Linked DNA regions of Homo sapiens: region 1 is linked to region 2. Evidence: fine-mapped expression QTL. A gene starts in region 2. The other region holds a variant in brackets. All regions are shown on one strand. Distances are between the middles of the regions. Region 1 has its middle 28 kb from the start of RWDD3. Region 2 holds the start of RWDD3 (RWD domain containing 3).

Region 1 (4,397 bases), 28 kb after region 2:
AGCAAATATTGAGTTATGTGAAATGAATACAAATTGTGTTACTAGAGAAAGTTAAATTCCTCTTCTGGATTCTGGAAAGACATTGGTTTGTCTATGTATGAATGTACATTGAAACTTCAAACAAAACAAAACAAAACCTATGATGACAAATATAAGTCTTCAAAATCTCCATCAATAACATTCTAACTGCCAGAGATCACCCAATATGACCTTCCATATACTTTCTCTGTTTCAAATATTCTTTGTATTATTATTTCCTTCTCCTTCCTAATCTGGAGACAGAATGGTTGTCTTTTTTAAGGCAAGACCACTTGCCTATACATACTTGATTCCATCCTCTGTCTTCTCTGAGATTTCATAACATTAATTCTCTCTTGCATTTTTAATCTTCAATAATAAAAATGCTCAAATATTTCCTCTTATAAATAGCATCCTCTCTTTGATTCCCACTTTGTTTTGTTCATTGAACTGATATCTATTATGTTATTATGTCATCGCCTCCCATGCCTCTTTAAAAAATTGTGTTGTGAAATATAACACTCATACACAAATGAATAAGATATAATTGTACAGCTAAAGAAATTATTATGAAGTAAAATCTGTATAAATACCACCTGTTCAAGAAATAGAACTTTGCTAGCATCTTTACACTTCCCAGTCTCAACCCCCTGAATTGACCACTATTTGGATGTTTATGGCAATCATTTCCTGGTTCTTTTTTTAATTTTACTACCTAAGTAAGCTAACAGTATAATTTAGTTTTTTAAATTTGTTTTTAAATTCTTTATGATAAAGTCTGATCTCTTCTGCTCAGTCTTGTATTTGTGAGATTCATCTATTTTATTGTTTATAGCTATGAGGCATTCATTTTCATTGTTGTATGAAATATTCATATAGCCCAATTTATTTATCGAGTCTACTATAGATTGTTATTTGTCTAAATATTTAAATTTTTTGCTATCACAAATGGTAGTGCAATAAATGTTGTTGTAGATATCTCCTGGTACATGTAAATATGCATTATTGTTGAGTATATAACTAGCAGTGTGATTACAAGGTTTTAGTGTTTGCATATTTTCAACTTTACTGGATGATGCTAAACTGTGTTCCTAAGTGGTTGGGGCAATTTACACTCCTGGCAATACTTGGTACTGACAGTCTTTTTAATTTTAGTCATTACAGTGTGTGTCTAGTGGTGCTGGATATTAATAATATTGAGCACATTCTAATATATGTTAGCCATTTGGACATCCTCTTTTGTGAATTGTATCTTCAAATCCTTCATTCATTATTCTACTGGGCAGTCTGTTGTTTTCTTATTGGGTGTAGAATTCATTATGAATTCTGGATATGAGCCCTTTGTTGGATATATGTATTGCAAGTAGCTTCTCTCACTCTGTGGTTTGCTTTTTGTTGTGTCTTTTGATGAACGGAAGTTCTTTTTTTTTAGTAATATGACTGTAAAAATAAAATTCATTTTTAGGTTACAATTTGATGACTTTTGACTCAAGTACACATCCGTAATCATCAACCACTACTCCAATTGTTGGGTCCCCCAATATCGTCTCTGCTTTCTTCCTGTGTCCTGACCAAGGAAAACAGAATGCCTTGACTACTCTGTGACCTGGCCAGCTACATGTTTTTCCTGCATCCTTGAATCCAAGCTAGGGCGTTGAACATTCCCCACTACTGATAAAGCTGTTT[A/G]GGTTGTTGCTGGAAACACAGAGATTGATTATGTTACTATACACGTAGAAGGCGTCCACCTTCGGAAAAATTCTTTAAGCTCTCACATAAACTCCATAACCTGACCCCTCATTGCGGACATACTCAGGAAGAACATCTCCCCCTCACTGTCGCTCAGGCGGACCTGCTGCAGCCTCCTCCTGTGTAACTTGTAAGTTCCCCTAATAAATGCTTCAGATTGGTCACTCTGGAGTTTAGTGCTTCCTTCTCTGAAACCCAAGCAGGCCCAATCTCAGGAAGGTTTGGGACGGTCCCTTGAAGGAGTTCCCCTGCCACCATTCTTGGGGTGACTCCAGCTGCTGAGTTTGGCCGGAGAGAAAACCAATCTACACGTACAACCTTTCCACCTTTCCGCCTCCCCAGAACCTTTCCACCTCTCCAGAAAGTTCCCTCAGCCCCATTGCAGTCTCCTCCCCTCCTCTTCTTAGGTAATCACTGTTTTGATTTCTATCACTGTAGATTAGCTTTGCCTGTTCTAGAATAAAGGTGTTATTGAATAATGTGTACTCTTCTGTGTCCAGCTTCTTTCACTGTCTGTGATTTCATCTACATTATGTTGTGTATTGTGGTTTGTTCCCTTCTATTGGTGGCCAGTAGTCCACCATATAAATTTATTTAGCCATTCACCTTTGATGGATATTATGAATAAAACTGCATAAATATTTAGGTGTAAGCCTTTTTATAGATACAGATTTTCACATCTTTTGGTAAATATCTAGGAGTGGAATTTCTATGTCTGTTTAACTTTATATAAGAAATAGCCAAATTGTTTCCAAAGTGGTTGCACCATTTTACGCTTCCATTTGCAATGTACTAGGTTGGTGCAAAAGTAATTGTGGTTTTAGTCATTACTTCCAATGCAAAAACTGCAATTCCTTTTTTTTTTTTTTTGAGACTGAATTTTGCTCTTGTCACCCAGGCTGGAGTGCAATGGCGCGGTCTCAGCTTACTGCAACCTCTGCCTCTCGGGTTCAAACGATTCTCCTGTCTCAGCTTCCCAAGTGGCTGGGATTACAGGCGCCCACCATCAGGCGTGGCTAATTTTTGCATTTTTAGTAGAGACAGGGTTTCGCCATGTTGGCCAGGCTGGTCTCGAGCTCCTGACCTCAGGTGATCTGCCTGCCACGGCCTCCCAAAGTGCTGAGATTACAGACATAAGCCACTGCGCCCAGCCAAAAACCACGATTACTTTTGCATCAACCTACCTATGTTCCAGGCGCTGCATTCCTTCACCAAAAATTGGTATTGCTATTCTTTTTCATTTTAATCACTCTAGTGGGTGGGATATTACACCAAGGTTTATGTTTAGTTATCTGTAGGTTTTCTTAAATGGTCTGAAACAAGTAATTACCTCAGAATAAAATATTTTAGGAACCAATGCTGGCAGGATTACATCTTATAAAGAGGATATTGTTCACCAGTTTTGGTTCTGAGCAATCTTGAGCTAGTCCAGTGCTGGTGTGAAGTGTGCTAGTGCTTTTTTTTTTTTTTAAATCAGGATGCATCTTGATGGTTGGTGTCATAATTTCTGTTTCAGTGGTCTTCTGAATGTCCAGAGCCACTGTAAGGGGAATTGCCTATGCAGGCCATGCCAAGTCTCAGAGCATAGCAGAACATATTATAATACTTCTGGTGCAGTAACAGGCCACTGTGCTTTTGGGGGTCCCTTTCCGGAAAGTAGCGGTCAGAATGATTGACAAAGGCCTTCTGCACAGTAAGATAAGGTGCTCACTTGAATGGAACCTGGGTAGTGGCAGGGCACTGACTTTCTTCATAGATCATTCCCTGAGACTCACTCTAGGTGGTCTATGAATACCACCTCGCCTTTGTCCGCCTGGTCCTTTCAGATTGGTTCCCCTTATCTTCAGGCTCTACTGTCTCACCCTCTCAAAACAATTCCTCTAAAGGCTCTTAACCCACAACCCAGAGAAAATTATGTTCTCTGGTGGGAGAAAAGCTAGTGGTGGTAGAGATCAATAGGTGTTTACATAGTTTCCATTTTAACCTTCCTTTATAGTAATGAGCCCCAATTTCTACCTAGGCACAGTGCCATTTAGAATAAAATCCATATTTTTTAGATTTCCTTTAAACTAGGCAGGGCCATAAGACCAAATTCTGGGTCTTGAACATGACTTCCAGGAAGGCTTCTTGAAGGTGCTGGCTCACTGGGCGCTGTCTCTTTTGCTCTGCCCCTTCCCCCGCCCCCGGCATGTGGACACAGTCCCAGACATTCCAAAGGCATCTGGGATGATGAGGTGAGCTTGAGGGTGAAAGTGGAGCGGACAATAGGAATTACCCTCTGAATGTTTTTTTATGTGAAAGAATATAACTTTGCGGCTTTAAGCCACATTTTAAGTTTTCTATCACATGTCATCAAATCTAGTCCTGATGTACATATATGAAATTTGGAACCTATTACAAGTAACAGAGTATAAAATGTGACTGACTCTGAGTCATTCCAAATCTATTATTTATGGCTTAAACTTTTTGTCTAGAGTTCTTAGAAACCTAGATTTTCTTAAAGTAAGCTTTTGAAACATAATATCCAAGAATTTAATTTTTCTTTACCTGTGTCCAGCTTTAACAACCCTTCTTTGTTGCAGTGAAGGTGAGATGGACCTTATGGTTTGGGCTGAAGAAAAGATACAAAAAAA
Region 2 (4,397 bases):
CAAGAAAATTTTAAATCATAGATTGATGTACTCTTTAATCAATTTTCATGGACCTATTGCTGACAGCAGGCTTTAGCAACTGCCTCCTAATCCTTCCTACAGCTGTAATTTTGCTCTTCATGTTATTTCACTCATCTCACTTATAGTGAATTTGGAAAATTAAAAATAAGTAAAAACTATTTGAATATTTTATAGATTTTTTTTTGCTCTTGAGACGGAGTCTCGCTTGGTTGCCTAGGCTGGAGTGGTGCAAAGGTGCGATCTCGGCTCACTGCAACCTCCGCCTCCCGGGTTCAAGCGATTCTCCTGCCTCAGCCTCCTGAGTAGCTGGGATGATAGGTGCTTGCCACCACGCCCAGCTAAATTTTGTATTTTTAGTAGAGACAGCATTTCACCATGTTGGTCAGGCTGGTCCCGAACTCCTGACCTCAGGTGATCCACCCGCCTCGGCCTCCCAAAGTGCTGGGCTTACAGGCATGAGCCACTGCGCCCAGCCTATTTTATAGATTATTTTCAATAAATAAGTCAAAAACCAAATTGTTTGACTTTTCATAGTAACACTGGATTTCGAATTAAAATAACTTAGTAATATTTTAAATTAAAAACGTATTCTTTTGTTCAATCTCTTTAGCAGTTAATTATGAACCTACTGAACTGCTGGAACGTCTGTTATTTTGGAAATAAAGGAGTTTTTTTTTTCTTCAAGCCAATTGGCCATATCAGAGATAACTGCATTTAAATAAGCCTTCATCTTCCCAATTATGTGCTCCTAATTACTCGGGGTCACTGAAATCCCATGGCATCTTCTGAAAAGCATTTTCCCTGCAGTCCATCTTGTTAGGTTTCCTTTCTGTTCCGGGAAGCCAGTATCTTTTCCTTTATCAGATTCCTTTTTTACCAACAGCGGGAATGGTAATGGTGAATGGATGCAGGGTTTTAAAATCAGCCAACTTTGTTCTGACTTCCGTAGGTCAGTGACTGGAGTCACTGCCTAACAACCTAAATTCCCAGATTTATCTCATGAAATGTGATTTCTCATACAAACAAAAGTTGTGAGAACTCCATGAGCAAGACCAGCTGCTTGTGGGGACTGCCAAATTTTAAACTGTTATTTGAACAGCAAAAAGACCAGGCAAACATCCGAGAGACAGACCTAACTGCAGATAAGTCTTGTAATCTTGTTCACTATAGTCAAAACAGAATGGATTGCTTATTCTGTTACCCTATTGGTATTGCTCACATTTTAAAATTTAGGTGCTGGGCTCAAGAATGATAATTTTATTATTAAGCTTCAAGAGTCACATTGTATTGTATGCATTGAATATCACGAAATCGAAAACACTGAAAAGCTAGCGTTTACATTCTTGGATCATACCCCCAAAGGCCAAGGATTCCCACTGGCCGCTTGCAGCAGGGCTGTCTCCTGTGAAGGCAAGAGACAAACGAGGAGCGTTATGACACTTTGCTCCCAGGACTTTGGCGCACAGTTCCCATGAGTCCAGGTCCGTCCAGTCAACATCCTGAAGCCAGGACTGGCAGGTCCTGACCCTCCCTTTTTGCACCCGTAAGGGGAAGGGCCCGGGAATCTGGACCTTGTCTAGAGTCCCGGCGCCAGTACCAGTTCGGAGGGCATCCTGGAGGTTGTTACTAACCCGAGCCTCTTCCAGGCTTCCCAGGCACCAGGGTTGCTAACAGCTCCACGGGGGCGAATAATTTTGTTTATTTTGTTAACTGTGGTTATCTCCAACACTCAGTTCAGACCTGAGCCGGGCAAAGTCTCACCTTGTCTCCTGGTCACTTCCCTGCTTGTTTGTTTCTTCCTAACTCCCAAGTGTCTTTCGCCCAGTTCATCCCCACCTCAGCAGCCCAAGGCTCGGCGGGGACGGTCGGGGTTCGAAGCCTGCAGCTAAACTTAGAGGGTTCAGGCTTTGCTGGGAGGCCTCCCTGTGCTCAGAAGAGCCGGGGGTAAGCTGGGCGGTCGCCTTGGGTGCAGACAGAGGCGCAGGGCCTCGGCCTCCAAGAAAATTCCCAAACCGAGAGGCTGAGCTTCGCGTCTGTAGTTACTGAGCAGGAGCTTCTGGGCGGAACTTCTAAGGGCCCCGCCCGCCCCGTCTGCCCTGACCCTCGCCCGGACTCGCCTCGCCCACGTCCCGTTTCGCTTCGCCCCAGCTCCGTCTCGCCCCGCCCCCGTCCCGCCCGGTTGCGGAGGCGCGGGGCGCCCCCGGGTGGCCGCGGGCAGTGCTGCTCCTGGCCGGTGGAGGCGGCGGCTGCGGCAGCGGAAGGGGAAGCGCTGAGGCGGTGGGGCCCACAGCCATGGCGGAGCCTGTGCAGGAGGAGCTCTCGGTCCTGGCCGCGATTTTCTGCAGGCCCCACGAGTGGGAGGTGCTGAGCCGCTCAGGTGACTACCCGCGCGCGGGAGGGACAGGGCGCCCTCAGGGGCCACCCGCGTTCGCTTTGCGTCTCCTCCCCACCACGGAGCCTGGGCACCCCGCCTGGGCCCACGTATGGGGACCGGGTTAGTTGAATGATGGAATGACACGCCCGGAGGCCGGAGTGGTGTCGCAGCGGGCGGGAGTGTGAGGCGACCCCAGAAACACTAAGAGAGCGGCGCGGCCCACTGGGGCCTCTGCCGCCGGTCCCGCTCCCGGAGCCGGGGGCCCCTGCGTGCGCACCCCCAGGCCCTCCCCCAGCCTCCCACCCCTCAGATCTCACCCTATAAAGAAGCCTGTGCTGACGCCCCCTCGTTGTTCTGTGTCCTTCCTAAGCACTATGCCCTAGGCCCCCCCGAGAGCACTCCCCGGTTCTAACTCTACACGGGTATTTGTAGGTCTTAAGTTGCAGGAGGGCAGGGTCTGTTTGGTAATGACTCCAGGCACCTGGTAGGTAGTAGGTAAATGTTTGTTGACTGAACTTTTTCATTTATCCAGTGCTCAACCTCAACTTTATCTGCATTCTATTTCCAAGTTGATTGCTTTTCTGATACTTTTTTTTTTTTAGGTGGAGTCTCTCTTGTTGCCCTGGCTGGAGTGCAGTGGATCCATCTGGACTCACTGCAGCCTCCGCCTCCCGAGTAGCTGGGATCACAGGCGCGTGCCACCATGCCTGGCTGAATTTTATTTATTTTATTTTATTTATTTTTTATTTTTTAAGACGGAGTCTTGCTTTGTCGCCTAGGCTGGAGTGCAGTGGCGCGATCTCGGGTCACTGCAACCTCCGCCTCCCGGGTTCACGCCATTCTCCTGCCTCAGCCTCCCGAGTAGCTGGGACTACAGGCGCCCACCACCACGCCCGGCTAATTTTTTGTATTTTTTTTTTTAGTAGAGACAGGGTTTCACCGTGTTAGCCAGGATGGTCTCGATCTCCGGACCTCGTGGTCCGCCCGCCTCGGCCTCCGAAAGTGCTGGGATTACAGGCGTGAGCCACTGCGCCCGGCCTTTTTTTTTTTTTTTTTTTTTTTTTGAGACAGAGTCTTGTTCTGTCCCCCAGGCTGGAGTGCAGTGGCGCGATCTCGGCTCACTGCAAGCTCCACCTCCTGGGTTCACACCATTCTCCTGCCTCAGCCTCCCGAGTAGCTGGCACTACAGGCGCCTGCCACCATGACTGGCTAATTTTTTGTATTTTTAGTAGAGACGGGGTTTCACCATGTTGGCCAGGCTGGTCTCAATCTCCTGACCTCGTGATCCGCGCGTCTCGGCCTCCCAAGGTGCTGGGATTACAGGCGTGAGCCACAGGTGCCTGGCCTTCTGATACTTTTTTTTAAACAAGCTCTTGAGGGCTTTATTAGTCATTTAGCCCACATTTATTGAATCCCTGCTGCCTACAGACTTTGTCAGGGTTTCAGAGACACCGCTACCCATGGCCTCTAGGAGCTTACAGTGTAGAGAGGTTCTTTTGACTATTTTTTGATGATAGGTGAAACTTACTGTCCCTGTATGTGGCTTCTATTGAATAAAAAAAAAAGAAAAAACACTGCCATGTATGAGAAAGTGACTCAGTTTTCACTTAGCTTTCAGATACATTATGTACATGTTTGGGGCATGAGATTTATCGTTCTAATGTTATATTGTAGCTACCATTAAAATTGGCTTTCTGACCATAAATTGGTTAACCTTTAAGAAGGTAGTCTAGGCCTGGCGCGTGGCTCATGCCTGTAATCCCAGCACTTTGGGAGGCCGAGGCGGGCAGATCACCTGAGGTCAGGAGTTCAAGACCAGCCTGGCCAACATGGCGAAACCCCATCTCTACTAAAAATACAAAAATTAGCTGGGCATGGTGGCACACGCCTGTGATCCTTGCTACTCGGGAGGCTGAGGCAGGAGAATCACTTGAACCCGGGAGGCGGAGGTTGCAGTGAGCCAAGATCTCACCATTCATTGCACTGCAGCCTGGGTAACAAG

Evidence for each region. PIP is the estimated chance that this variant, and not a neighbour inherited with it, causes the effect.
Region 1: its variant is the best candidate, but not a certain one, in a credible set for the expression of RWDD3 in lung (GTEx, PIP 0.70).

Annotation. Positions count from the first base shown.
Region 1 is chr1:95,259,674-95,264,070 of GRCh38, forward strand. No RefSeq gene overlaps it. Among named protein-coding and RNA genes, the nearest start is that of RWDD3, 28 kb to the left of the region's middle. The variant A/G (reference allele first, on the strand shown) is at 1,705.
Region 2 is chr1:95,231,918-95,236,314 of GRCh38, forward strand. RWDD3 (RWD domain containing 3) reads left to right here and starts at 2,293. Exons shown (of 4, transcript NM_015485.5): 1 at 2,293-2,398. The coding sequence starts at 2,314. All of the region lies in intron 7 of TLCD4-RWDD3 (TLCD4-RWDD3 readthrough), which reads left to right. It overlaps RWDD3-DT (RWDD3 divergent transcript), which reads right to left and starts at 2,065. Exons shown (of 4, transcript NR_125949.1): 1 at 1,783-2,065. RefSeq lists silencers at 2,034-2,363, 2,574-2,753.